Linked DNA regions of Homo sapiens. The protein of the gene in region 4 purifies or fractionates together with the protein of the main gene of each other region. This does not show direct contact. Each region holds a gene or a part of one and is shown on either strand. Other genes may lie near its edges. The genes, in order: HSDL1, TRMT2B, DBT and PPTC7.

Evidence for each region.
Region 1: the proteins of PPTC7 (region 4) and HSDL1 purify together in Homo sapiens (affinity purification with mass spectrometry; 2 studies listed by BioGRID and IntAct, with this or other methods). This does not show direct contact.
Region 2: the proteins of PPTC7 (region 4) and TRMT2B purify together in Homo sapiens (affinity purification with mass spectrometry; 3 studies listed by BioGRID and IntAct, with this or other methods). This does not show direct contact.
Region 3: the proteins of PPTC7 (region 4) and DBT purify together in Homo sapiens (affinity purification with mass spectrometry; 2 studies listed by BioGRID and IntAct, with this or other methods). This does not show direct contact.

What each region holds. Positions count from the first base shown.
Region 1 is NC_000016.10:84,142,165-84,149,747, forward strand, and holds the start of HSDL1 (inactive hydroxysteroid dehydrogenase-like protein 1), read right to left. Parts: upstream 3,014-7,583; 5' UTR 2,916-3,013; intron 1-2,915. Other genes in the region: DNAAF1 (dynein axonemal assembly factor 1), read left to right, coding at 3,277-3,400, 6,843-6,978.
Region 2 is NC_000023.11:101,049,095-101,056,267, forward strand, and holds the start of TRMT2B (tRNA (uracil-5-)-methyltransferase homolog B), read right to left. Parts: upstream 3,018-7,173; 5' UTR 2,723-3,017; exon of another isoform or gene 2,690-2,722; intron 2,643-2,689; exon of another isoform or gene 2,640-2,642; 5' UTR 2,157-2,639; intron 1-2,156. UniProt on the Homo sapiens protein: Mitochondrial S-adenosyl-L-methionine-dependent methyltransferase that catalyzes the formation of 5-methyl-uridine in tRNAs and 12S rRNA. Catalyzes the methylation of uridine at position 54 (m5U54) in all tRNAs.
Region 3 is NC_000001.11:100,204,829-100,211,848, forward strand, and holds part of DBT (lipoamide acyltransferase component of branched-chain alpha-keto acid dehydrogenase complex, mitochondrial isoform 1 precursor), read right to left. Parts: intron 6,297-7,020; exon of another isoform or gene 6,212-6,296; intron 5,944-6,211; coding exon 5,866-5,943; exon of another isoform or gene 5,865-5,865; intron 1,809-5,864; coding exon 1,617-1,808; intron 1,474-1,616; coding exon 1,402-1,473; intron 1-1,401. UniProt on the Homo sapiens protein: The branched-chain alpha-keto dehydrogenase complex catalyzes the overall conversion of alpha-keto acids to acyl-CoA and CO(2).
Region 4 is NC_000012.12:110,580,318-110,588,202, forward strand, and holds the start of PPTC7 (protein phosphatase PTC7 homolog), read right to left. Parts: upstream 3,002-7,885; 5' UTR 2,715-3,001; coding exon 2,492-2,714; intron 1-2,491. UniProt on the Homo sapiens protein: Protein phosphatase that plays an essential role in mitochondrial metabolism and biogenesis. Positively regulates biosynthesis of the ubiquinone, coenzyme Q. Dephosphorylates the ubiquinone biosynthesis protein COQ7 which is likely to lead to its activation.

The DNA.
Region 1 (7,583 bases), on a different chromosome or scaffold from region 4:
CCATTCACCTGCCTTGGCCTCCCAAAGTGCTGGGATTACAGGTGGGAGCCACTGCACCTGGCTGAATGTCTTAATTTTGAAAGAGACAAATATATCAATCTTTCTGCTTTAGGGTTTGTTTTATTTCAGAAATCCCTCCTTAGCCTCAGGTCATGAAGAAATTTTTTCGAATTATTTTCTAGAAATTTTACATTTTTGCTTTTTCAGTTTAAGTCTTTAATCCTCCTGGCGTTTTGTGATGGTGTGAGGCTGGGATCTCACACATCTTTTTTTTTTTTTTTTTTTTTTTGAGACAGAGTCTCACTCTGTCACCCAGGCTGGAGTGCAATGGCGCGATCTTAGCTCACTGCAACCTCCTCCTTCCAAGTTCAAGCAATTCTTCTGCCTCAGCCTCCCAAGTAACTGGGACTACAGGCGTGTGCCACCATGCCTGGCTAATTTTTGTATTTTTTTCTTTTTTAGTAGAGACGGGGGTTTCACCATATTGGCCAGGCTGGTCTTGAACTCCTGACCTTGTGATCCGCCCACTTTGGCCTCCCAAAGCACTGGGATGTGACCGGCCGGATCTCACACATCTTTAATATTCCTCCTCAGCACCTGACATGCTGCTGTAGACAACTTTATTTAATAAACAGAATCAAATACTGCTTTGTGTTCAAAGCTCAAATTTCACTCTTGAGAAAAAAACTTAAGCTTTTCATACTCTGCGTCAGCACTATGACAAAGTTAGCATTGGTGTATCAAGACTTTTTGGGATGTCTTTACCTTCACTGCCAATTTTTGGTATAGGACTAAACGCACAATGAAGCTGAGCCTAAAGAGCAGCAACATGGAATTAGAAACCTGGATTCTCATCCAAGATCCAACACTCTTCACCATCATGTCTGTATTTATGCAGTAAGAATTAAAATATTCAGAGTACCCCACTCCTAGGCAGATACCCAAGATAATTAGAAACTTTTGCTCACATAAAAACTCCTGCTTGCATGTTCACAGTGGCCTACTCACAACTGCCAGAAGGCAGAAACAAACAAAATGTCCATCAACAAATGAATGAATAAGCAAAATGTGGTGTTATCCACACAAAGGAGTATTATTCAGCCATAAAAAAGCATGAAGTACTGATACATACTACAACATGGATAAACTTTGAAAACATTATGCTAAAGGACAGAAACCAAATACAAAAGGCCGTATGTTGTATGTTTCCACTTGTATGAAATGTCCAGCATAAGCAAATCCATAGAGACAGAAGATAACTTAGGGCTGCTGAGGGACAGGGGGAGAAAAGAGGTATGACTGTTAATGGGGTTGGGGTTTCTTTTGTAGGTGATTAAATGTTCTGGAATTAGTTACTGGTGATGGTTGCATAGCATTGTGACTATAGCAAGAACTACTGAGTTATACACTGTAAAATGGCTAAAATGATAAATTTTATGTCATGCGTAAGTCATTTCGATTTTTGAAAACCTACTTTAAAAAAAAGTAGCACCAATATGTTCAACTCTGTTGCCCTAGAATATTCCAGCAGTGATTAAAACCACAAACTTGGCCGGGTACAGTGGCTCATGTCTGTAACCCCAGAACTTTGGGAGGCCAAGGCGGGCAGATCACTTGAGGCCAGGAGTTCAAGGCTACCCTGACCAACACAGCGAAACCCCGTCTCTACTAAAAAAAAAAAAAAAAAAATTAGCTGGGTGTGGTAGAACGTGCCTGTAATCCCAGCTACTCGGAAGGCTGAGGCAGGAGAATCACTTGGGCCCGGGGTGCGGGATGGCGGGCAGAGGTAGCAGGAGCTGAGATCGCAGGCACCATTGCACTACAGCCCGGGCGACAGAGCGAGATTGTCTGAATCAATCAATCAATCAACACCCTCCCCCTCCCCCTCCCTCTCCCTCTCCCTCCCTCCCTCTCTCTCTCTCTCTCTCTCCTGTGGCGGTCAGAGTAAAATTGAGAGCTCACTTTATGCAAAAGACTCTGCTAAGTGCTTTATTCCTATTGTCTCACTTTATTCTCTCATTAATCTTATAAAGCGCAGTCAGACTCTCCCGTTTATAGATGGGGAAATTGAGTCTTATAGATGTAAAGTCGCACACCCAAGACCCCACAACTCAGAAAGGGGCTACCTGCAATTCAGATGGAGGTATAGCAAGGCGCAGAGTCCTGTCCAGGGAGCCCACTGTGAGACCCCCCGACTGCCTCGCAGTCACCTGTACACATCATGTTGGGATCGCCGAGGGGCGCTGCAGCGATCCGGTTTCTGGGGCTGCGTCTGGGTGGCACGTTCAGAACGGGGACCTGCCTGGTTCTTCTTCCCAGCCCTTCCCCTCCAGCACCCGGCAAGGCCCAGTCAACACGAGCAAACTCGGAAATCCTGGCTGAACCCACGACCGCTGCATATTTCCATTTTAGAAAAACACGGCAACAACAACTCAAACCAAATCGTTCAGAAATGAGAATAAAGAAGCACCGACAAAGGAGGCGATTGCTGGGGCCGCTCGGGGGAGGAGCCGGGTGAGAGGCTGCAGGGAGGGCAGGGCATGCGCCGGCGACAACGGGGTTCGCGGTTTGGGGGGCAAGGCCCGGGGGAAGAGAGAGAACAGGGGTGCAGCGCCGCGGCGGGGGGCGTGAGGATGGAGCCGGGGGAAGGGGGGCTCTGAGATGTGAAGGGGCGGGGCTGGGGCTTTTTGGTCTGAAGGAAGGAGTCTCACGGGACGGAGGGACGAAGATTTCCTGGGGTCAGGGGCGCCAAGGGGCTTCGGGGCCGGATGCAGCGGAGGGGGCCCGGGGCCTGGGGGGCGTGGTGAGAGCTCAGAGGGGTCTCGCCAAGCAGCCGGCTGGCGCTGAGGGGACCGAGGAGGGGTCTGGGGCGAAAGGACCGCGAGAGGGCGCCCAGGGCGCGGGGGGCGCGGTACCTGCAGGCCGGCAAAGTCTTCCAAACCGGTCCCGCCAGACCCGCGCGGCCGCCGCCCCCGTCTCGGCCGCCGGAGCTGCTGCCGCGCCGCGCCCTCACGTGACCCGCGTACGCGCCGGGGGCGGAGCCGTCTCAGACCCGCCCCCACCCCCCGGCGTCCCCAGCGCGCCGGTCCGTCCCGAGTGCGCGTGCGCAGCGGTTGCCTGGGCGACCGGGGAAGCGTTGGGCTGTAAAGACTAGGGCGCCAGCGGCTGGCGAAGAAGGAAAGAGGGTACTCTCTGGCTGGGCTGGGGCCGTAGCGACGTCCGCCGCGAACCTGGGCCCCCCAAAGCTGCGGGGCGTTCGGTGTCGCCGAAGTAAACATGCACCCTGAGCCCTCGGAGCCTGCGACAGGTGGTGCAGCAGAGCTGGATTGCGCGCAGGAGCCCGGCGTGGAGGAGTCTGCGGGTGACCACGGGAGCGCAGGCCGAGGGGGCTGCAAGGAAGGTGCCGACTGCCCCCCAGGGAGGGCGGTGGGCGAGGGGCAGACACGGCTAGGCGCTCCAGCCCCCTTCCCACACCACATACCCGATCTTCACAGCCAAATAATAACAATAATAATAATGGTAGCAAGCAACGCTCTGCAGTAGGGGCTTCTCTCGCCATTTCGTACTGAGGAGGAAACATACTTAAGAGGTTACAAAACTTGCACCAAACAGATAACCCTCGGCTAGTCAGTGACAGAAGAGACTTGGCCGGGTGCGGTGGCTCAACGCCTGTAATTCCAGCACTTTGGGAGGCCGAGGCGGGCGGATCATCAGGTCAGTCAGGAGTTCGAGACCAGCCTGGCCAACATAGTGAAACCCTGTCTCTACTAAAAATACAAAAAATGAGCTGGGCGTGGTGGCGGGCGCCTGTAGTCTCAGCTACTTGGGAGGCTGAGGCAGGAGAATCGCTTGAACCCGGGAGGCGGAGGTTGCAGTGAGCCAAGATCTCGCCATTGCATTCCAGCCCGGACGACAGTGGGAGACTCCGTCTCAAACAAACAAACAAACAAACAAGCAAACAAAACCCACCAGACTCAGGCCCAGACAGTCTGGGTCTCCAGAGCCCCAGCCCTAACCCACCACGCTATTCTCCCTGGTCCCAACTTTGATGCTTTAAATGTGTCCCTTTATTGCTATCACTATGTAAGATCAAAGGCTTTCTCTCCCTCCAGACTGCATGTTGTGTCAGGGCAAGACATCTTGATTGAATTTGGAGTCTAGTCCAGTGCCTGACCTAGGGTAGAGAGTCCGAATGAAGACTTGGTTCTGGGGTCAGTGTGTGATCCCCTCACCAAAGTTTGCCAGAATGGACTTGAAAGATAACCTTCATGGCCAGGCACGGTGGCTCACGCCTGTAATCCCAGCAATTTGGGAGGCAGAGGCAGGTGGGTCACCTGAAGTCAGGAGTTCGAGACCAGTCTGGCCAACATATTGAAACCCTGTCTTTGCTAAAAACACAAAAATTAGCAGGGCGTGGTGACGTGCTCCTGTAATTCCACTTACTTGGGAGGCTAAGGCAGGAGAATTCCCTGAACCCCGGAGGCAGAGGTTGCAGTGAGCCAAGGGGGAGGCTGAGGCTGCAGTGAGCCAAGATCACACCACTGCACCCCAGCCTGGGCAATGGAGCAAGACTCCGTCTCAAAAAAAAAAAAGGAAAGAAGGAAGCCTGGCTTCAGCTTCTGCTCCCACTAGACTTGGTGCCCTAAAGGAAACCTTTTAGTGATTACATTAAAAAACCACTTGATTTGTGTTCCAGTTTCTGAACGCAGGCAACAAATAAACCAGCTGATTTGTGTTCCAGGCAACAAATATATCTTAAGCATCAACTGTCCAGATGAACCTTGTATGAGGAGCCATAGGGAACTGGCATTACTCAGTGGAAAGACACTGGTCTTGGAGCCATTGACACTGGGTTCAAGTTGAGGCTCAGCAGCTGGCCAGCTTTATGGCTGTTGGCCCAGAGCTTAACCTCTCGGAGCCTTAGTCTCCTCATCTGTAAGCTGGAATAATTATACAGGAGTATAAGGAGAGAATTATAATTAAATGTCCCAGCATATAGTGGGCCATTATTAAATGGTAGCTCTTGTTATTAATTACATATTAATATTTATATATTGAGCGCTTATTCTTTATTTTTTCCACAAACATTTATCTGTTGCTTCCTGTGGCTGGGCATTCTATGCAAAATTGATGAGTTTAAGAACCAGTCCCCACACGCACAGCCTTTAGTCTTGTTCAATAGACCACACAAACACAGAAAGCAGCAGACAACAGCTCTTAAAGTTAAGTGCGGTTGAATTGGCCAATTTTGAATGACCTTTAAAAAAATTATTCATTTGAATGTGCTCATGTTATTGTTATCATAGATATTCTCACTATTTTTGTTTCTTTTCATGTGATTTTCCTTTTTATGATTTTTTTTTTAAGAGATGGAATCTCACTATGTTACCCAGGCTAGATCTTCCTGCCTCAGCCTCCTGAGTAGCTGGGACTACAGGCATGCTCCACTACACCTGGCTTCAGAAATTTTTTAAAAGACAAAAGAACAAAGAACATTAAAACAAATACCCGTGTTTTGCCAGCAAGAATTGAAAATGAGTAACATTTTATCATATTTATTTGAAGTCTTTTTTAATTAAAGAAATAAGCCCCCCCCAAAAAAAAAATAAAAATAAATAAGGGTGGGCACGGTGGCTCACGCCTGTAATCCCAGCACTTTGGAAGGCCAAGGCGGGTGGGTCACCTGAGGTCAGGAGTTTGAGGACAGCCTGGCCAACATGGGGAAACCCCGTCTCTACTAAAAATACAAAAAAATTAGCTAGGCATGGTGACAGGCGCTGGTAATCCTAGCTACTTGGGAGGCTGAGGCATGAGAATCGCTTGAACCCGGGAGGCGGAGGTTGCAGTGAGCTGAGATCCCGCCACTGCACTCCAACCTGGGGGATAGACCAAGACGGTCTCCAAAAAAAAAAAGAAATAAAACATTTCACATAGAGTTGGTGTTCCTTTTCTCCCCTGTACCCCACCCCGTTTCTAATCCCATTCCTTTCCTCCCTTGTCCAGAATTTTATATGAATTCTTGCAAGCACTTCTCTATACATGTATGCCCTGAAACAGTGTATAGTATTGCTTTGCATATTTTTAATTTATATATGGTATCCTGTGCTTATTTTGAAACTTGCTTTTTTCACTCCATATACGTTTCTGAGAATTATCCCTATGGATAGATGTAGTTCTAGTGCATTCTTCTCAAAGGTAGAAAAGCAAGTCATTGTTTTATGTAACCAGCCCCTATGGATGGACATTTACGTTGTTAACAGTTTTTGGCTTTTATAAAAAAAAACGCAGAAACAAATCTCTTTGTCCATGTTTTCTTGTGCACCTGTACAAGAGTTTTTATAGAGGATCTACCTAGAAGTGAAATTTACATAGTCTTTGCCAATGCTTTAAAAATTGTTACACATTTAAAGATTACTGTTCTCTCTCTCTCTCTTTTTTTTTTTTTTTTTTGGTGAGACGGGGTCTCACTTTGTTGCCAGGCTGGAGTACAGTGGTGTGAACACAGCTCACTGCAGCCTTGACTTCCCAAGCTCGAGTGATCAACCTGCCTCAGCCCCACAAGTAGCTGGGAATACAGGCACGCACCACTACATCTGGCTAATTTTTGTAGAGATGGGGTTTTGTCATGTTGCTCAGGCTGGTCTCAAACACCTGGGCTCGAGCAATCTACCTGCCTCAGCCTCCCAAAGAGCTGGGATTACAGGCCTGAGCCACCATACCCAGCCACTAAAGAATACTGGTGTTCTATACTAAAAGTGGATGGTCATTAACCAAGCTGAAGTTGGGGGTATTTTTTGGCATATATCTTGATCTCTACAGACCTGATCTCTTTTATTTTACAGAAATTAATGATCCTAAGGAAATATGTGTGGGTTCTTCTGACACATCCTACCACAGCCAGCAGAAACAGAGTGGTGATAATGGGTCAGGTGGTCACTTCGCACACCCAAGAGAAGACAGGGAAGATCGGGGCCCCAGGTATGTGGGCATACTCCTAATTAGTGCACATTTATGGAGTAAGGTAGATGGCGTAATCACCCCCTTGTACGGATAATGAAATAGAGGCTGGTAGAGATTGAATTGCCTGCCCAATGTCTGAGAATGGAGTGAGGATGGCACTGCCTCTGCCGCACAGCTGAGCGCACATTCTATTAAACTTTAATGCCAGACTGCAGAGAGGAACAGCAGTAGTTCCTCATGACACCATTTAAAGTATTTTTATTAGAACATACAATGCAATTTTTAGGCCGGGCGCAGTGGCTCATGCCTGTAATCCCAGCACTTTGGGAGGCTGAGGTGGGCGAATCACAAGGTCAGGAGTTCGAGACCAGCCTGCACAATATGGTGAAACCCCATCTCTACTAAAAATACAAAAAATTAGCTGGGCGTAGTGGCGGGCACCTGTAATCCCAGCTACTTGGGAGGCTGAGGCAGGAGGATCGCTTGAACCCGGGAGGCGAAGGTTGCAGTGAGCCGAGATCATACCACTGCACTCCAGCCCGGGCGGCAGAGTGAGACTCCATCTCAAAAAAAAAAAAAAAAAAACATACATTGCAATTTTTAAGAATGCTGAAAATAAGCCA
Region 2 (7,173 bases), on a different chromosome or scaffold from region 4:
ACATACACACACATAGACACATAAATTTTCTGACCCTCTACATGAGTGCCTGCTGGAGTGTAGTGAGGTTATGGCCTGTGCTGGACTACCTGTTAATACTCTCAAAAGTGTGTGGCAGCCGGGTGCAGTGGCTTACAACTGTAACTCCCAGCACTTTGGGAGACCAAGGCAGGAGGATTGCTTAAGGCCAAGAGTTTGAGACCAGTCTGGGCAACATAGCGAGATCCGGTCTCTACAAAAAGTTTTAAAAATTAGCCAGGTGTGGTGGCACACACCTGTAGTCCTAGCTACTTAGGAGGCTGAGACAGAAGGATCACAAGTCCAGCAGTTGAAGGCTGCAGTGAGCTATGATTGTGCCATTGCATTCCAGCCCGGGAGGGAGACCCTGTCTCCAAAAAAAAAAAAAAAAAAAAAAAAAGCCAGGCGGGGTGGCTCAGGCCTGTAATCTCAGCACTTTGGGAGGCCAAGGAGGGTGGATCACTTGAGGTTAGGAGTTCGAGACCAGCCTGGCCAACACGGTGAAACCCTGTCTACCAAAAATATACAAAATTAGCTGGGTGTGGTGGCGCACGCCTATAATCCCAGCTACTCAGCAGGCTGAGGCAGGAGAATTGCTTGAACCCGGGCAGAGGTTAAAGTGAACCGAGATCATACCACTGCACTCCAGCCTGGGCAAGAGACTCCTTCTCAAAAAAAAAAAAAAAAGTGTGTGGCCTGTGAGAATGTACGTATTCGATATGGAGGATGGCAAAAGCCAGAGAAAGGAAATGAATGAAGAGGCAAGAGACATAAAGAATGACATGGTGGGTCTGAGAAGGCCAGTGGCCTTGAAGCCCAGACTACAGGGGAAGGGAGTAGAGCTGATCCAGGAGAGGGGTCCTGTCCCTCCAGTCAGCAGGAAAGTCAGGAGGAAGGAAACTGCAGGCCCATTTGAGGATTTGCAGAGGAGGGACAAGGAAGCTGGGGAATTTGAAGATAGCTATTCCCACCCCAACGACATTTAGACTTTTTTGTGAGTGTGTGGGTCCTCTCACTGGTGACTCTGCCATGACTGTAGTTCATTTGCCCTATACCCCAGCAGGAGGGTCCTTGTCCATCTAGGTCTCTTCCAAATTATCAAGTATGGTTTAAAACAGGACCTTATTATTTCAAGGTGCCAACCAGCCATCATTCTAGGTAAAGAGCCTGTCATATTTAGTAACTTCTGTGGTGAAATTTCTTTTTCAAGGCAGCACACTCATACTAGTCAAGGTGAGTTCTGTTTCTTTCTTAATGTCAGGGGAGACATTTGTTCACAGAAGAGACTATTTTCTTTTTATATTTTGTCCTGTTTTAAATAAGTGCTTGGGGCCAGGTGCGGTGGCTCACGCCTGCAATCCCAGCACTTTGGGAGGCCGAGGCTGACAGGTCACCTGAGCTCAGGAGTTTGAGACCAACCTGACCAACATGGAGAAACCCTGTCTATACTAAAAGTACAAAATTAGCCGGGTGTGGTGGCGCACGCCTGTAATCCCAGCTACTCGGGAGGCTGAGGCAGGAGAATCGCTTGAACCTGGGAGGCAGAGGTTGCGGTGAGGCGAGATCACACCATTGCACTCCAGCCTGGGCAACAAGAGTGAAACTCTGTCTCAAAAATAAAAATAAAAAATAAAAAATAAATGCTTGGGGGCCAGGCTCGGTGGCTCTCGCTTGTAATCCCAGCACTTTGGGAGGCCGAGGCAGCCGGATCACAAGGTCAGGAGTTCGAGAGCAGCCTGACCAACAGAGTGAAACCCAGTCTCTACTAAAAATACAAAAATTAGCTGGGCGTGGTGGCAGGCGCCTGTAATCCTAGCTACTCCAGAGGCTGAGGCAGGAGAATCACTTGAACCCGGGAGGCGGAGGTTGCAGTGAGCCGAGATCGCACCACTGCACTCCAGCCTGGGTGACAAAGCTAGACTCCGTCTCAAACAAATAAAAAATAAAAATGCTTGGGAGTTTTTTCCTCAGCAAAAAAAAAAAAAAGCGTGTGAGCAGTCGTGCTCGACTGTTCTATACCTGCCTCAGGAATTGATCAGGAAGAGTCCTGGAGTCCAGAGTAGCCCAAATAGGAAGGCAGGCTAACTCTCCTGTGCTCAGAGAGGTTCAAATCAAAGAGACTATGTGGTAGGTCTCACCTGCGCAGGGCCAAGGATCCCTTTTGGAGCAAAATGTTCACCCACCGACAAGGGTCCTGCTTGCACTCTCTGCTCACCCTTCCTTCAGCTGGACCGGCTCCAGACACTATTCCTTGCTAAACCAAACAAGCAAATGGGTTGACTGCTGTGTCGTGTCCCGAATGCAGCCCACAGGCAGTCAGGTCCTTGTCTCCCCAACAAGACTCCACTAGCCCTTCCATTCCCTTCTTCTTTAGGCAAGTTCTGCCCACTGTGTCTGTAGGAAGGGTTAACAAAGAGGAGACACTAGGAAAGGCTACCACTAAACTTGGCCGGTCTGCAGGGCCCGGGAAGGACAGAAAGTAAGGGAGTGGGAGGAGTTAGGGCACAGGCCCACGCTGGGCCGTACACGACCTTGCGCAGTCACCGTCGGGTCCCGTCTCCAGCCCCGCCTGCCTCCTCCATTCCCCGCCCCGCGGACAGTTTGGCATAGTAGGGAGTTTTCTGTAAAGCAAGGGTTAAATCAGGTTTTCCGGGCTATTTATCCACCTTACCTTCCTTCGTAACCAATAAATCCTCTTACAAACCTGAGGCGGCAAACTAAAAGGCCAGCGGATGGCCTGGTTTGCTGCGGCGGGGAAACAGTCACTTCCTGGTGCGCAAGGCGCCTCTACTCCCGCCGCACGCGCAGCCAACCCTTGGCAAGCGCGGCGGGACACGGGGCTCCTCCCAGCGTCGGCGAGGCAGCAGGCTCCGGCACCTCGACTCCTCTCGGGGAGTACCCCTCCCTACTTTGCTGGGGGAACCTTCTATGGAGACCTTCCTTAAAAGCACTCATAGCCCTGACACCCGCCGCCTTCCTTCTCTAAGTTCTCCTCTCCTCCCCTCCCCGGGGCCCCGCCCACCACCTGCTCTTTCCTCACCGTCCCATTGGTGGATCTACATAAGAGACTCACGAAGACGTTCACACTGCAGTGTTAACTGCGTTAGCCATCCCAGGGGTGCTTGCAGTTTAAGTCTTCCAACTCAAGGAATAGTTTTCTCATGATAGAATTGCAGACATCAGATCCCTAACGGGTTGGAAGATTGGGAGATGAGAAACAGGGTGGTTCCGTGAAATGGCATCCTTTGGTAAAAGCCAGATCTATTCTGGGCCGTGGGGTTTCTCAAGCATTCATTCTCTTTTAACACTGCATCAGAAAAATACTTTATAGTTTCTTCACTGGATCCCACTCAAGACTATTAAATCCTAAACCCTCAGAAATAATCTTTTTCTTCAACTACAGAACTCAAAAAGAGGACAGATGTCTCTTTTTGGTTGATTCACTACCTCCTGGACTACATTCAGTAATACCTCTAATTTTTAGAGGAGTCATTAGCCCAGCCACGAGTAAGAAAACTTGAAGTATACACACATCTGTGTGCTGTAAAATATTGTTGCTTTAATAGAGTAAAATTTACAGCAAAGTGAACCTACCGAGGTGGGTGCAGTGGCTCACGCCTGTAATCCCAGCAGTTTGGGAGGCCGAGGCGGAAGGATCACCTGAGGTCAGGGGTTCGAGACCAGCCTGACCAACATGGTGAAACCCCATCTCTACTAAAAATACAAAAATTAGCTAGGCGTGGTGGCGCACGCCTGTAATCCCAGCTGCTCAGGAGGCTGAGGCAGGAGAGTCACTCGAACCCAGGTGGTGGAGGTTGCAGTGAGCTGAGATCATGCCATTGCATTCCAGCCTGGGCAAAAAGAGTGAAACTCCGTTTCAAAAAAAAAAAATAGTGAACGTACATTTAATGATATTTAATTTTTATGCTTAATAGTAATTGTGCTCAAGTGGAAAACACTTTGTAGTCAACATTTCATGTATTAATATTTATTCAAAGCATAACATGCCTATTATGTGCAAGGCAATGTGTTAGCCTTAGTGAGTACAGTAGTAAATTAAACAAGGCCCAATACTTCAAATAGCAGCAAACATTGAGTCAGTCAGAATAGGATTCAAAGCCCAGATCTGCCACTTATTTTCTATTTTTCTGTTTTTTGAGACAGAGTTTTGCTCTTGTTGCCCAGGCTAGAGTGCAATGGTGTGATCTCGGCTCACCGCAACCTCCGCCTCCCAGGTTCAAGCGATTCTCCTGCCTCAGCCTCCCGAGTAGCTGGGATTACAGGAGTGCACCATCACGCCCAGCTAATTTTTGTATTTTTAGTAGAGATGGAGTTTCACCACGTCGGTCAGGCTGGTCTCGATCTCCTGACCTCAGGTGATCCGCCTGCCTCGGCCTCCCAAAGTGCTGGGATTACAGGCATAAGCCACCACCCCCAGCAGATCTGCCACTGATAAGCTGTGTCCACTGAGCAAGTTATTTAATTACTCAGTGCTTCAGTTTCATCATCTGAAAAAAAATGTCCACAATAATTTTACCTACCTCATACGGTTGTGACAACGATTAAATGAGTTAATACACACAAAGTGCTTAGAATACAGTAAGTACACAAAGTTAGCTATTATCATTCAAAATAAGTTGATATACTGTGTGTTCATACATTCTGAAGAAAATAAAAATATTTTACCCCAAAATAAATGTATTTGCCATATGTTTGAAATGGCTGCCTCAGGACCAGAGGACTGAGATGGGGGAAATTTGCATCTGTAGAGAACCTCCTTGAATACAGCCAAGCTTCCCATTTCTATGCCTTACCTGGATCCAGGAGAGATTGAGAGTCTGACATCTTTAAAAGTTTGAAAAGAAGCATTTACCAGCTATTCTTTCGGAAGGAGGCTTCCTCTACATGACAAGGCCACCTTCACAAACCAAGTCTCTTCCTTTCTTCCATAACCTATCTTGCCACTAAAACCTGTTTTTGTATATACTCTGAGTTCGTCCACATTCTTTCTGTAATTTCTTACTTTTTTTTTTTGAGGTGGAGTCTCGCTCTGTCACCCAGGCTGGAGTGCAGTGGCGCGATCTCGGCTCACTGTTGCAAGCTCCGCCTCCCGGGTTCATGCCATTCTCCTGCCTCAGCCTCCCAAGTAGCTGGGACTACAGGCGCCCGCCACCACGCCTGGCTAATTTTTTGTATTTTTAGTAGTGACGGCGTTTCACCGTGTTAGCCAGGATGGTCTTGATCTCCCAACCTCGTGATCCACCCGCCTCGGCTTCCAAAAGTCCTGGGATTACAGCCGTGAGCCACCACGCCCGGCTTTTTTTTTTTTTGAGATGGAGTCTCGCTCTGTCACCCAGGCTGGAGTGCAGTGGCGCGATCTCGGCTCACTGCAACCTCTGCCTCCCGGGTTCGAGCGATTCTCCTGCCTCAGCCTCCCTAGTAGCTGGACTACAGGCTTGCACCACCACGCCCAGCTAATTTTTGTATTTTTAGTAGAGACGGGGTTTCAACATGTTGGCCAGGATGGTCTCGATCTCTTGACCTCGTGATCTGCCCGCCTCGGCCTCCCAAAGTGCTGGGATTACAGGCATGAGCCACGCCTGGTCTCTTTCTGTAATTTCAAGATGATATATAAGCTTCTGTTAATTATTGGGAGGTTGGGTCTCCATGATGAAGGCTCCCATGTGTACATGTTAAATAAATTTGTATGCCTTTTCTCCTATGAATCAGCCTCATATCAGTGATATTTTAGTGAACCTTCAGGGGCCAATGACTTTGGCCCCCACAACACACACACACACACACACACACACACACACACACACAAACACACACGTGTATGTTTCTTGTTTTTTAAAGAGAGATTTCACTTCCATCCTAAACCCTTGAGGAGGTAAATGTTTGACTCAAATTGCCACTATCCTAACTGCTCTCATGGCTCATAAGCAAAATTTGAACTCAAACCACTGCTTCAGCCTTCTAGGCCCATGCAGGGCTATCAAGTGAGACCAGGCCAGAGAATTTACCTTTGGCTCTATTTTCCCTTTCTCATCTTTTAATCCCCTCTTATATGGCTAGACAGCTCTACACCTTTTATCACCTCCTCTTCCCCTTTCTTCCCCTTCCCAAGCCCTTCTGCTCCTTTATCACTTCTCGTTTTGGCCTTCTGTGTTGTGCCTAGCACAGAATCAGGTGTCCCATACGAGCTCAATAAATATTAATATTTGATTAATTAAACTGAATTCCATCTTGTCTGCTGAAAGAGAGAAGGCATTTCCTCCCTCACCCCCACCTATTTTGAGCATCCAGGCAAATTCATTTAAAGCAGGCCTGTCATTCAAGGAGGAAAACCCTGAGGGGTAGAGAGAGAAAAGAGATTAAAGCAGCTATAATGTAATTATTTAGCCATTAACCCCTTTATATTTATTTAATCTGGTAAAGCATATTCTACTATAAAAGCGAAATCATTACATTTGTAAGAGGGGAAAGAAATACCCCGTATTATAGGAAAGGTTAGACCCTTCAACCAGAAAGTCAGTAAGTGGATATGTCATAGATGATAAGGAATATTGTTAACTCAAATAAGAGCTGGAACCAAGATAACCTTTTACTTAATTTTGTTATTAGCAAACCAAATCACAACAAAGTGAAATCCCTAGGAATTTGTCAAACATTCTCATTTTGGTGCAAGGAAAAGATAGCTGAGAGGCTACAGCATTCGCTCTCAGAAATAACATATTAAAATTTACCAAGCAGGAGCATCGCCATCTTGGACAAGCACCACAATTCTAAAGTTCTCCTTGATCAAAAACCACCTAAGGCCGGGTAAGGAGGCTCATGCCTGTAATCCCAGCACTTTGGGAGGCTGAGGCGGGCAGTATCACCTGAGGTCAGGAGTTCAAGACCAGCCTGGCCAACATGGTGAAACCCCGTCTCTACTAAAAATACAAAAAGTAGCTGGGCGTGGTGGTGCATGCCTGTAATCCCCGCTATTCAGGAGCTGAAACAGGAGAATTGCTTTTTTTTCTTCTTTTTTTCTTTTCTTTTCCTTTTTTTTTTTTTTTTTTTTTTTTTTTGAGATGGAGTTTCACTCTTGTTGCCCAGGCTGGAGTGCAATGGTGTGAATTCAGCTCACTGCAACCTCCGCCTCCTGGG
Region 3 (7,020 bases), on a different chromosome or scaffold from region 4:
AAACCTGACAAAAACAAGCAATGCGGAAAGGATTCCCTATTTAATAAATGGTGTTGGGACAACTGGCTAGCCATATGCAGAAAACTGAAACTGGACCCCTTCCTTACACCTTATACAAAAATTAACTCAAGATGGATTAAAGACTGAAATGTAAGACCTAAAACCATAAAAACCCTAGAAGAAAACCTAGGCAATACCATTTAGGACATAGGCATAGGCAAAGACTTCATGACTAAATCACCAAAAGCAATTGCAACAAAGCCAAAATTGACAAATCAGATGTAATGAAACTAAAGAGCTTCTGCACAGCAAAAGAAACTATCATCAGAGAGAACAGGCAACCTACAGAATGGGAGAACATTTTTGCAATCTATCTATCTGACAAAGGGCTAATATCCAGAATCTACATGGAACTTAAACAAATTTACAAGAAAAAAACAAACAACCCATCATAAAGTGGGCGAAGGATATGAACAGACACTTTTCAAAAGAAGACATTTATATGGCCAACAAACATATGAAAAAAAGCCCATGATCACTGGTCATTAGAGAAATGCAAATCAAAACTACAATGAGATACCATGCCAGTTACAATGGCAATCATTAAAAAGGCAGGAAATAACAGATGCTGGAGAGAATATAGAGAGATAGAAACGCTTTTACACTGTTGGTGGGAGTGTAAATGAGTTCAACCATTGTGGAAGACAGTGTGGCGATTCCTCAAGGATCTAGAACCAGAAATACCATTTGACCCAGCAATCCCATTACTGAGTATATACCCAAAGGATTATAAATCATGCTACTATAAAGACACATGCACATGTATGTTTATTGCAGCACTATTCACAATAGCAAAGACTTGGAACCAACCCAAATGTCCATCAATGTTAGTTAGACTGGATAAAGAAAATGTGGCACATATACACCATGGAATACTATGCAGCCATAAAAAAGAGTGAGTTCATGTCCTTTGCAGGGTCATGGATGAAGCTGGAAACCAGAAAACCAAACACTGCATGTTCTCACTCATAAGTGGGAGTTGAAAAATGAGAACACATGGACAGAGGGTGGGGAACACCATACACTGGGGACCTGTCGTGGGGTCTGGGGCTAGGGGAGGAATATCACTAGAAGAAATACCTAATGTAGATGACGGGTTGATGGGTGCAGCAAACCACCATGGCAGGTGTATACTCATGTAACAAACCTGCACATTCTGCACATGTATCCCAGAACTTAAAGTTAAAAAAAAAAAAAAAAAAGAAATAATAGACTTTCTAAGATAAACTCAGAAACTTAAAACCTACAAAAGGAGGGGAAACCTTAGAAATGGTTACTCTTCATTGTGTTTAGTCCCTGAATTTGCTTAAACTCCATTTTTCAGTTATCTAATACATGTACCTTAATTGATCCAAGGGCCCCAATGGCTACTTCAGGTGGCATTATCACTGGTTTGGCAAAGGTACCACCAATCTATTTTTTAAAAAAAAAAAAAGGAGAGTATTAAAAGTTAAGATTTTTCAGGGAACAAATGCCAAGTGACTTTTCTATTTTTAATTAAGCATATGATCAGAAACCTTAAGTAATGGTTTATGTATTTCAACATTATTACTCACTGATCCAATGTTGGAAAGAGTAAATGTTCCTCCTGTAAGATCAGTGGTGCTGAGCTGACTCACAGAGCCCAATTTCTGGAGGCGGTTCAGTTCAGTGGCGATGTCAAATATAGAGCAGATCTGAACATTTTTCACATTAGGGACAATCAAACCCTGCTCAGTATCCATTGCTATCCCAATGTTATGAGAAGCCTAAAAAATAAAAAATTGTACAGTAGGGCTTTTAATGAATAAGCTAACAGCAAAGAAAGGATCAACCTTCACTGCCATCTAGAAACCACTACCAAAACTCATTTTTACCAGATTGGTAGTGATTTAAAAGAAATAATTTAAAAATAATTTTTAAAAGATTTTTTGGGCTAGGCGCAGTGGCTCATGCCTGTAATCCCAGCACTCTGGGAGGCCAAGGTGGCTGGATTACCTGAGGTCATGAGTTCAAGACCAGCCTGGCCAACATAGTGAAACCCCATCTTTACTAAAAATACAAAAATTAGCATGGTGGCACAGGCCTGTGATCCCAGCTACTCGGGAGGCTGAGGCACGAGAATCGCTTGAACCTGGGAGGTGGAGGTTGCAGTGGGCCGAGATTGTGCCACTGCACTCCAGCCTGGGAGACAGAGTGAGACTCTGTCCAAAAAAAGATGATAATTTTTTATTGATAAGAATGTAGGCAATAGGCTATTTCCCAACATCGTTAGTGGGAATGTAACTGGTACAGGTTGAGCATCCCTAGTCCAAATATCTGAAATCTGAAATGCTCCAACATCTGAAACTTCTGGGGGCTGAAATGACGTCATGTGATGTAGCCAATTTCCTTGAAAACTGATTTATCACCCTGAGTCAAGATCCATCTTCAGAATTCTGTATACTGACAAATATAGAAATGTAAAGATTTTATTTTCAATTTATTGGATGGATTAAGCACCTCAGCATTCCTTACTATGTGATAAAATACATATATAATAAAAAGTATATTCAATATTTTGTCCTTAAACATTATGCTGCATAGTTGTTGAAACAGTTCTCATTTTATAATATTTAATCATATCAGAGCCCATCAATAAAAAAAAAAGAGAAAAATGCAGCCATTGTTCTGGCAGGGCATAGTGGCTCATGCCTATAATCCCAACACTTTGGGAGACTGACACAGAAGGATTGCTTGAGGCCAGGAGTTTGAGACCAGCCTGGGCAACATAGCAAGACTCCATCTCTACAAAAAAATTTTTTTTAATTAGCTACAAAAATTTTTTTTTAAATTATGGCACATGCCTATAGTCTCAGCTACTTGGGAGGCTGAGGTGGGAGGATCATTTGACCTCAAGAGTTTTAGGTTACAATAAGCTATGATTATGCATGGGTGACAGAGCAAAACTCTGTGTCAAAAAAAGAAAAAAAAAAAACTTTGTGGCCGGGCACAGTGGCTCACGCCTGTAATCCCGGCACTTTGGGAGGCCGAGGCGGGCGGATCACGAGGTCAGGAGATGGAGACCATCCTGGCTAACACAGTGAAACCCCATCTGTACGAAAAATACAAAAAGAAATTAGCCAGGCGTAGTGGCAGCCTCCTGCAGTACCACCTACTCAGGAGGCTGAAGCAGGAGAATGGCATGAACCCAGGAGGCAGAGTTTGCAGTGAGCCGAGATCGCAGCACTGCACTCCAGCCTGGGCCACAGAGCAAGACTCTGTCTCCAAAACAAAAACAAAAAAAAACAAATCCAACTTTGTTTCATGCACAAAAATGTTAAAAATATTGTATAAAATTACCTTTAGGCTATGTGTATGAGGGGTAAATGAAACATAAGTGAATTTCATGTTTGCACTTGAGTCCTGTCCTCAAGATATCTCCTTTGTATATGCAAATATTCCATAATCCAAAAAAATCTTAAATCCAAAAACGCTTCTGGTCCCAAGCATTTCAGGTAACGGATACTTAAACTGTAGAGACTTTCTGGAGAACATATGACAACATGAACCAACATTTATAAAAATTCGTGTTAAGGAACTAAGTGCAGAAGTATGTAGGGATACACAGGGATGTTGAGTACACACTGTTTATAAGTTTGAGAAACTGCAAATAATCATGATGTTTATAAATAGGTCACTGGCTAAATAAATAACAAAGCTATACTTGTTGACAATGATGTCTACAATATAGTAAATGAAAATGAAGAGGCTGGGCACAGTGGCTCATGCCTGTAACCCAGCACTTTGGGAGGCTGAGGTGGGTGGATCACTTGAGCCCAGGAGTTAGAGACCAGCCTGGGCAACATGGCAAGACCCCATTTCTACAAAAAAAAAAAAAAAGTACAAAAATTAGCTGGGCATGGTGGCACGTGCCTATAGTCCCAGCTACTCAGAAGGCTGCGGTGGGAGGTGGACACTGCAGTGAGGCGATGATTACACCACAGCATAGATATTCTCTATGGGGAATACTTTAGATAGGCAACAGAGCAAGACTCTGTATCAAAAAAAAAAAAAAAAGAAAAAGAAAAAAGCAAGTTAAAGAAAATATAAATAATTCTATATCTTGTAAAAAGTATGTAAAAATGAAATCCTAGAAAGATGTATATCTCAACATAAACAGTGAGCTATCTTAGGGTCATGGAATTGAGGGTAAACATCTTTGTTTTCTTTTTTCTTTTCTTTTCTTTTCTTTTTTTTTTTTTGACAAAGGCAGGGTTTCACTTTGTCACCTAGGCTGGAGTGCAGTGGCATGATCACAACTCACTGCAACCTCCATCTCCCAGGTATCATATGATTCTCCTGCCTCAGCCTCCCAAGCAGCTAAAACTATAGGCATGCACCACCATGCCTGGCTAATTTTTTTTTTCTGTAGAGATGGGGCCTCCTAACTTTGTTGCCCATGCTGGTCTTGAATTCCTAGGCTCAAGCCATCCTCCTACCTCTGTCCCCCAAAGTGCTGGGATTACAGGCAGGAGCCACCACACCCGGCCAACATCATTTTCTTGCCTGAAATTTTTTTAATAAGTATATACTTAATCAGGAGATATTAAAATTAAAATTAATACAGCTGACTGTATTAACCGTATGGGAGCTGACCTCCCAGAATATCTAAGCTCACTTTCTGGTTGTACATGTCTTTTCTTTTTTTTCTTTTTTTAATTCTCTTTTTGAAATGGAGTTTTGCTCTTGTCGCCCACGCTGGAGTGCAGTGGCACAATCTTGGCTCACTGCAACCTCCGCCTCCTGGGTTCAAGCAATTCTCCCACCTCAGCCTCCTGAGTAGTTGGGACTATAGGCGCTGGCCACCACGGCTGGCTAATTTTTGTATTTTTAGTAGAGACAGGGTTTCACCATGTTGGCCAGGCTGGTCTCAAACTCCTGACCTCACATGATCCACCCGCCTCAGCCTCCCAAAGTGCTGGGATTATAGGCGTGAGCCACCGTGCCCAGCCTCTGGTTGTGCACTTCTAATGATAAGTAAACTTCAGGAAAGGCATCTCAAAAAGAGTTTTCGGTCTTAAGAAACTTTCACTACTCACAGAAGAGTTTACTCAAATTGAATTCAAACTTTTATTATTTTTCTCACTTAAATTATTCTTAATATTAAAATTCCAGGAATTTGCCAGGCACAGTGGTTCATGCCTGTAATCCCAGCACTTTGGGAGGCTGAGGCAGGAGGATTGCTTAGACCAGAAGTTCAAGACCAGCCTGGGCAACATAATGAGACCACGTCTCTACAAAAAATTTAAAAATTAGTTGGGCATAGTGGCGCATGCCTATAGTCCCAGCTACACAGGAGGCTGGGGCAGAAGGATTGCTTGGGCCTGAGAGGTTGAGGCTGCAGTGAGCCACAATCACAACACTGCATTCCAAACTGGTGACAGAGTGAGACTCTGCCAATAATAATAATAATAATAAGAAGAAGAAGAAGAAGAAGAATAAGAATAATAATATTAAAATTCCAGGAATTCAATTTTGAAAGAGCTGCTTCTTTTTGAGAGGGTAAGTAGAGTGGGTAACATAATCTGCCATACAGCTATGTATTTCCATTATTTTAAGCAGGAAAAAAAAAAGCTTAAAAATAGTTTTAAGAATCTCTAAACAGTATTATTAACACAAAAACAACAACAATGAATTAGACTTAAGTTTAATGTTTTACCCCATACCTTTAATTCTAGTCTAAAAAAGATCACTATTTGAGGTACAATAGAAGTCTCTAATCTACAAGCACATTTGCCCCATCTTCTATTAATAATAAGAACATTTTTACTCTGCATAGCCAACCTTATATGTTATATTCTGGCAGTTTTCATCCACAGAAGCGTTAAGGATAGGAAACTGTAGTAATCCCAAGGAAGCAGCCTGTTTAACAGAAAAAGAATGCAATTTTAGTACTTTTAACTTAGAAAGGATAGAGAATTTGAAACAATAAGAGGTATAAAAGGAGGGAGAGAGAGAACTCTTATTTATGCTGAGTTTAATTTCAAGTCTACATGTACCTAGTCACATTACTGCCAATGTTACCTTCAGGCCATGTGGAACTAGGTCACCCTAATCATTAAAGAATAAAAGATAAAGTAGTCAGGTAGCTTGTAAACATCAAGGAGATTTTCAAAATAATGATACAGACCAGCCAAAGTTCCAAAGAAAATGTCTAAATTCTAGGTGATTTCCTCACTGACATGTTGATCTTAAGATTTCCATGAGAAGTAATACTAGGAATCAAAACACAAAAAAAGCAGGTAAGCTATTTCTCTGTGTGGAAAGAACACGTAACGAGGATTTCAAAGCGCACTGACCAGTAGATGCCAGTTTGCTACTTGGTGTCCTTGGCCAGCTGAAGGGCAGAGATGTCCTGAACATTTACTTTACAGCTCAAGTCTCACTGAATAGCATTTATATTTTCCCTCTCTGCTGCCTTCTCCCTTTTGTCACTTAATACCATTTCTCTCCTGTCCATATTCAGATTTCCCTAACTGTACCCAAAATGTTCTTGATAATCTGTTTTTGGGATCTAATAATCAAGTTTCATACCTTACATGTGGTGGCCATGCATTGTATTGAATTTAAAAGATAGCAAAATAAAAATGCTTAAGATCATTCTTAAAAAGAATTCCCTCCCCCACTGCCCTTGTCTGGTCCCTGTTAAAGTTCTTTACATGCATTGTGTTATTCTTCTCAGTGCATCGGGGTCTTGATGGGAAAAAAATCAAATTCTTGAACTAGAGAGTTAAGAAAAAAGTTTAAATATATAGAGACATTTCATTTTCATTAGTTAGGACAGGTTAAGAGAGTAGATCAACTGAAGAAAAATATAATTAAAAGAACTGCTACGAGTTCCTTAATTTTTATGACTTGGAAGTTTTTCTTGTTTGTTTTTGAGACAGGGTCTTTCTTTGTCACCTAGGCTGCAGTGCAGTGGCATGATCTCAGCTCACT
Region 4 (7,885 bases):
TAAGAAGGTAGCCTTCCAAAATTTTATTGTATTTTTTTTGAGACGGAGTCTTGCTCTGTTACCCAGGCTGGAGTGCAGTGGTGTGATCTCGGCTCACCGCAACCTCCATCTCCCAGGTTCAAGCAATTCTCCTGCCTCAGCCTCGCTAGTAGCTGGGACTACAGGCGTGTGCCACCACACCTGCCTAATTTTTGTATTTTTTAGTAGAGACGGGGTTTTGCCATGTTGGCCAGGCTGGTCTCGAACTCCTAACCTCAGGTGATCCGCCCACCTCCGCCTCCCAAAGTGCTGGGATTACAGGCGTGAGCCACCACGCCCGGTCTAGCCTTCCAAAATTTTAAAATCAAGCTTCCATATAGAATTTGATACATTTAAATACTCCCCAAATCATCAATCAAGTCACGGATCTTTCACAAAAGTCGCATACAGATTTTTTATTTTATTTTTTTTTTGAGACGGAGTCTCGCACTGTCGCCCAGTCTGGAGTGCAGTGGCACGATCTTGGCTCACTGAAGCCTCCACCTCCCTGGTTCAAGAGATTCTCCTGCCTCAGCCTGTTGAGTAGCTGGGACTATAGGCATGCGCCATCACGCCCGGCTAATTTTTGTATTTTTAGTAAAGACTGGGTTTCACCATATTGGTCAGTCTGGTCTTGAACTCTTGACCTCATGATCCACCCGCCTCAGCCTCCCAAAGTGCTGGGATTATAGGAGTGAGCCACCACGCGCAGCCCAGCATACAGATTTATGAGGTGAACCTTAGAGGCTCATTATCCCCTATCCTATGTTATGAACACAACTTTAAGAAGCAACACAGGGGCCAGGCTCACACTTGTAATCCCAGCACCTTGGGCGGCCGAGGCGAACACGAGGCCGATCACGAGGTCAGGAGTTCGAGACCGGCCTGGCCAACACAGTGAAACCCCATCTCTACTAAAAATACAAAAATTAGCTGGACATGGTGATGGGCGCCTATAATCCCAGCTACTCGGGAGGCTGAAGCAGGAGAATCGCTTGAACCGGGGAGGCGGAGGCTGCAGTGAGCCAAGATTGCGCCACTGCACTCCAGCCTGAGTGACAGAGGTAGACTCCGTCTGAAAAAAAAAAACGCAGCACAGGTCACAAGCTCATTGAGTGAGGCACTTCTAAATGTATCAGGGAAGACAGCCACTGACAGCTGACTTCGGGGTGGATTTGTACAATTTCAATCTGCAAGCTGCAGGACCTTTCTAAGTCTCCCTCTCATGTTAATATCAATAGCGTTGCCTAAACATTAAATGCTTTTTCTTCAACCCAGGTAATGGGGTCATTCATAAATTAAACTGAGAACAACCTTTCCAGTCCCATGTTCACAAACACTACATGTAGTAGAACCAAAGATACTAGGCAATTATTCTGAGATCAGATTAAAAAATAATTACTGTCATAAAAAAGTTACAGAATCATTTGTTCCAATGCCAAACTCTGCCTCAGCATATGAAATTTAAAGTAACCAAAAACTTAGTCTCACCTGGGAAGGGAAATCAAAGTGACATTTGAACCCAAGTTCAATGACAACACGTCCTTCAATTTCAAAGCGAGCGCATTGCTTTATTCATTCAAAGAGTTTTAACGGCACAATATCCCATAGCATACACAAAATCTCCTAAGGCGTACATTATGGTAAAGTTTCTGACTGCTTGTGAACTATATTTAGCCCTTTCTGCCAGCTCTCTCCGTAGTCTCCCACCCCCAAAAGGTATAACTGGAATAGGCCTCAGGGAGCACCTGTGGCCTGAAAAGGCTGTGACCAATCCTCAGAGCTTTACCGGCTGCAATCTACAAGTAGGCTCGACCATTCTATTTTGGATCAAGGAGACTCTGCCAACCCCCAAGTGACCGCAAGTGGACAAGATCAATTTGGGAGAAAACGCTGTGAGGGTTTTTTCGCCAAGCCAGCAGCCCCCACCGCCACACTCCGAAAAGGGTGAAGATTTGGTTACCATCCAGGCGGCGAAAGAATACGGCCGGGCTGTCTGGGGGCTCACGACTGCCTGTCGGCCGGCGATCCCGCAGCCTGGGCCGGGCTGTGGTGTCGGGAGCACGCGAAGAGGCAGGGATCCCCGGGGCATGCGGAGAGGGAACCAGAACGAGGTTAGGAGCCTGCAGGTGTCGCCCAGGGAGGGGACGAGGTCGCCCAGGGCTGGCACGGCCGAGTGAGACCGAGAGTGTGGCTCTGGACTCGGACAGACCGGTCACACTCTCGGGTTGTGACCTTGAGCACACGACTTGACCGCTGTGCGCCTTAGTTTCCTCCTCTCTAAAATGGGGGTCGTTCAAGCGGAAAACGCGCCTCGGAGCGCTTGGCACGGCGCCTGGCGCATAGTAAGCGCTCCCTCCATGTGAGCGCTCTGGCTCCTTTCGCCGCCGGGAGGAACTGGGGAAGCCCCGCGCGGGGAGTCCCCGGGAGGCGGATCCGAGGCTGGGGCAAGGGAACCGGGTCGGGGACTCACCGAGCACGTCCGCGGAACGGTGCCGGGCCACGAAGCACGCGTCGTCCCCGTAGCACGCGCCCTTCTTGAGGAGGCCCTTACGGAAGTCCTTCCCGAAGCCGCAGCCGGCCGTCACCAGTCCGTAGTCGCCGCCGCCGCCGCCGCCGGCCCTGGGGTCGGTCTGCGAGAGGCCGCCGAGCACGGCGCGGGCCACCAGCCGCCCGTACGAGAGGACCGAGAACATCGCCGCCGCCGCCCCCCCGAGGAGGCGGGGGGCCGGGGGAGCAGGAGGACGCGGAGGCCCGGAGCCGGCTCTCTCCTCAGCCGCAGTCGCGCCGCCGCTGGGGCGCTCCTCAGGGCGGCGCGCAGTGGCCGCCGCCGCCCCTGCCCGACGCGCGGGGCCTCGCACGCGCTCAGCCGCGCGCACCGGAGCCAGAGCGAGGTCAGAAGCGGCGGCTCCTCCGCCTCAGCCCAACTGAAGTCCCGGCTGCAGCGGCCGCCGCCGCCGCCGCCATCTTCCGCTCCACTAGCGTGTTCCGGGCGGTGCCGGCAGCACCGCCCCCTCCCTGGCCCTGCCCCTAGCCCCGCCCCGATTCACCGCTCAGGCCCAAGCCCAGCCCCTTGGGCTCGCTGCCTTATGCAGTCACCAAGGTTGAACATGCGCAGAGGGTGCGGACGCAGTGTCTCTTGGGAATTATAGTCCCGGAGTCGTAGTCACTTTTGACTTGGCTGCCAAAGATTTAGGACCTAGGGGGATTCCTCAGACGCGGGACCTATGTTAAGTTAGTAGGAATTGCAGGTGGGCCACGTGAGGGTTTTCTACCCTGTTTTAACCGTATCTTTTAAAGCCTGTTTTAAATAAATAACGCCACCATTCCTTTAAACAAAAACCTGCAAGAAACCAGAATGGAGTCACATAATGAGAAACAGAGGTACACAGATCTAGTGACACCTCCCCAAGTAATATACTGGAAGGATTTAGGGCGGCAAACTGTTTGGAAAGAAGAGACTTTTTGTAGTCTTTTAGGAAAAATTGAGAAAATGTTATGTGTCCCTATCAGAGTGGGAGGGGACACAGATGGTGTCATGTCCCTTTTGCTAACTGGCCTCTAGCCATGCTCACAGCTGTCTCAAGACCTTTGCCCTTGCTTTCGCTTCTACCCTTTGGAATGTAATTCGTTTACCTGAGGGTCCTGTGTTTTCTGTTGCTGTATCCCCAGAACACGTGAGCACCCAGTAAATATGTGAATGAATGAAAGAATGAATGAATATTTCACTAGATTCTAAGTTTCCCAAGGACAAGGATCATTTGCTGCTCAATTATTAGAATCTAAAGCAATGCCTGGCACACAGTAGGAGAGTGTGTAAATGTCTGTGGAATAAAAGAAGGAATAATGGGCTGGGCGTGGTGGCTCACACCTGTAATCCCAGCACTTTGGAAGGCCGAGGTGGGCAGATCACTTGAGGTCAGGAGTTCAACACCAGCCTGGCCAACATGGTCTCTACTGAAAATACAAAAAAAAATTAGCTGGGCTTGGTGACAAACGATTGTAATGCCAGCTACTCAGGAGGCTGAGACAGGAGAATCGCTTGAACCTGGGAGGCAGAGGTTGCAGTGAGCCGAGACAGCGCCACTGCATTCCAGCCTGGGAGACAGAGCTGGACTCCATCTCAAAAAAAAAAAAAGGAAGGAGTAATGGAATAAGAACACAAATGATAAAAGAAAGTCATGTTTGTTGAATACAGGAATGATTGAGTGAATGGGGTTCACAAACAACAGAAAATGAGCTTTGGGGCAAGTAATTCAATTTAGAGTAATTTTTAGTTTGATTGAAACATATATTTCTCAGAAACAGCAGTCTTTTTCTAGTTCACTTTTAACAAGACCATTGTTACTTTGGGGATTCCCACCTCGTTTTTAAATGGTCCTTTTTTATGCTTTCTTAATATATTTAAAATGCTGCCAACTATCAACTCAACACATATTATTCCGTTATCCTAATTACTGTCATCATTAAACACTTTTGCAGTTCACAGTGTGCCAAGTACTGTCTATATATATGTTTCTGTCTTTAAGAGCTTTCATCAAAATTGGACGGAAGAAATGACTTCACGTAGTGGCATTTTGTCAAATATACAGAACCCAGAAAATGTTCATTTACTGGATAAATGGTATAGTAATGACAATAATGCATTCACACCTTCCTTTTTTTTAATGGCACAAGAATTGGAGAGTGCCCAGAAGAGGGGGTAGTGCCTCTCGGAATCCTCTACTTGGCATTTATATTGCTGCCAGCTGTGCTAAAGGTAGCTCTTTCAAGTACACATACCACTACCAGATCCCAGTCAGTCTGGCAGGTAATTCTACCCCAAGGACAAACTTTTTAAAATAGCATGTCAACCCTATTTCTTGCCTCGTCAAACTCCTTCAGACTGCTCCTACTTTTCCTTTTCAGGGCATATATTACCTAATTTCCATGTCAGTCACAAGAACTGGTTTGATGGGATGAGTAGGAACCTAAAATGTGACTCTAAAGCCAGTAACTTCTGCTCCGATGGGGCTGCTGTTTTCATGATTAAGTGATACCAGTGCCTTGAGTTTCCGGCAAATGAATTTCCTGCAAGTGAGTTTCCTGCAAATGAGTTGCCCACAGAAGCACGTGGCGAACAGAATCCTTCTCAAAGCTCCTTTGCAAGTTTTAAAGGAACAGGAGATAGGGCCTCGGGTTCTCTTGAATCATTTATTCCAGAGCCAGCTCTGAAGTTTCATCACCATGGGGGAAGCCAGGAGAGGGTACTTTACAAAACACCTCCCTTCCCGTTCCTTCTCCCAGGAACACAATTCACGTTTGACATTTTGTTGGACTTAAAAAGGCCTGGATTTTCTTCCTTAACAGAGTTACATTCCTAGCACTTCAGGGATTCCTGAGAGGTCAGTTGCCACTCTTAAAGGTGAACAAGTGTGGTGAAAATACCATCTGGGCTCCCAGGGCACCTCTATGACATTAGGAAAGAGCTTTGCACTAAAGTCAGCCTCCGCTCCTAAAAAAACCAAACAAACAACAACAACAAAAAGAAGGCATGACATTTCCTAGTGAGATTTTCTGCCAGACTGGTAGGTTGATCTCTTTGGGTTCCTTTTTGCTAACCTATTCACAATGAGCACTAATTAGCTTACAGCAAGGTGTCTCAAGCTTGACACTATTGACATTTTGGGCAGGATGATTCTTTGCTGTTAGGGCTGTCCTGTGCATGCGTTGGAGGGGGCTTAGCAGCATCCCTGGCCTCTACCCACTAGAAGCCAGAAGCATGCCACCTCTGTGCCCCCAGGACAACCAAAACTGTCTCCAGATATTGCCAAATGTCCCCTGGGGGGCAAAATTGCTCCCTGATTTAGAGCCACTGTATTACGGCAATGCCATGCAAATGAGCAAATATTTGTTGAGCACTTATTATGTTCAAGTCTCTAGGCTAAGGATAAAAAAAATCAGTGATTTTGTGGCAGTCACAGTGCAGTAGGAAGGTTAAAATTAAGTAAATGTATTAAAATAATAATAACAGACTGGGTGCGGTGGCTAATGCCTGTAATCCCAGCACTTTGGGAGGCCGAGTGGGGGGTGGATCACTTGAGGTCAGAAGTTCGAGACCAGCCTGGCCAACATGGCGAAACCCTGGGTCTACTAAAAATACAAAAATTAGCTGGGAATGGTGGTGCACGCCTGTGATCCCAGCTAGTTGGGAGGCTAAGGCAGGAGAATCACTTGAACCCGGGAAGTAGAGGTTGCAATAGGCCAAGATCACGCCACTGCACTCCAGCTGGGGCAACAGAGCAAGGCTCTGGCTCAAAGTAAATAAATAAAATAATAATAAGCACCACAAGCTGAAATAAAGGAGGGGTCTGGGAAGGGGAAATGAGACCCTCTGGGGTTAGAGAACACCTGGGGCACTTCACAAAGACATGACATTTGTGAGAGGCCTGAACGGACAGACAAGTCTCTCTGTCTGTCATGCGGCATAACCAGCTCAAGAGGAGGAAAAGGATATTCAATGAATGCAGAATGTGATTGGAGAAGAGCAATGCAACCTTAGGATCTGAAAAACGAATAATAATAAATGGTGGGGCTGGGCCAGGTGCAGTGGCTCACGCCTGTAATCCAAGCACTTAGGGAGGCCAAGGCGGGTGGATCACTTGAGGTCAGGGGTTCCAGACCAGCCTGGCCAACATGGTGAAACCCCATCTCTACTAAAAATACAAAAATTAGCCGGGCGGTAGTGGCGTGCACCTGTAATCCCAGCTACTCGGGAGGCTGAGGCAAGAGAATCACTTGAGCCTGGGAGGCGGAGGTTGCGGTGAGCCAAGATCATGCCACTGCACTCCAGTCTAGGTGACAGAGTGAGACCCTGTCTCAAAAAAAAAAATGGTGAGGCTAAGAGCTGGGCAAGCTGGCAAGTGCCTGTAGTCCCAGTTACCTGGGAGGCTAAGGTTATAGAGTGTCAGGATGGAGCCTGTGAATTGCTACTGCACTCCACCCTGGACAATGTAGTGAGACCCCATTTCTAAAACAAACAAAAGCAGTATTTTAAGGAGTCAGACACAAAATACCACATACTGTATGATTCCATTTATATGAAATGTCCAGAATAGGCAAATCCATAGAGACAGAAAGTAGATTAGTGGTTGCCAGGGACTTGGGGAAGGGACAAATGGGGAGTGACTGCTCATGGGTACAGGGTTTCTATTTGGAGTGGTGAAAATATTCTGGAAGTAGATAGTGGCAATGGTTGCACAAGTTTATAAATATATGAATAATCGCTGAACTATACACTTTAAAAAGGTGAATATGGCCGGGCATGGTGGCTCATGCCTGTAATCCCAGCACTTTGGGAGGCCGGGGCAGGAGGATTGCTCGAGTCCAGGAGTTCAAGACCAGCCTGGGCAACATAGTGAGACCTCTTCTCAATAAAAAATCAAAAAATTCCTGTAATCCCAGCACTTTGGGAGGCTGAGGCGGGCAGATCACGAGATCAGGAGATCGAGACCATCCTGGCCAACATGGTGAAAACCCGTCTCTACTAAAAAATACAGAAAAAATTAGCTAAGCATGGTGGCCCGTGCCTGTAATCCCAGCTACTAGGGAGGCTGAGGCAGGAGAATCACTTGAACCAGGGAATCAGAGGTTGCAGTGAGCCAAGATTGCGCCACGGCACTCCAGCCTGGCGACAAAGCGAGATTCCATCTAAAAAAAAAATTTGGCTGAGTATACTGGTGCACATCTACAGTCCCAGCTACTTGAGAGGCTGAGGTGGGAGGATTGCTTGAGCATGGGAGGTCAAGACTGCAGTGAACTGTGATCGTGCCACTGCACTTCAGCTTAGGCAGCACAAGTGAGACCCTGTCTCAAAAAACGGGGTGGG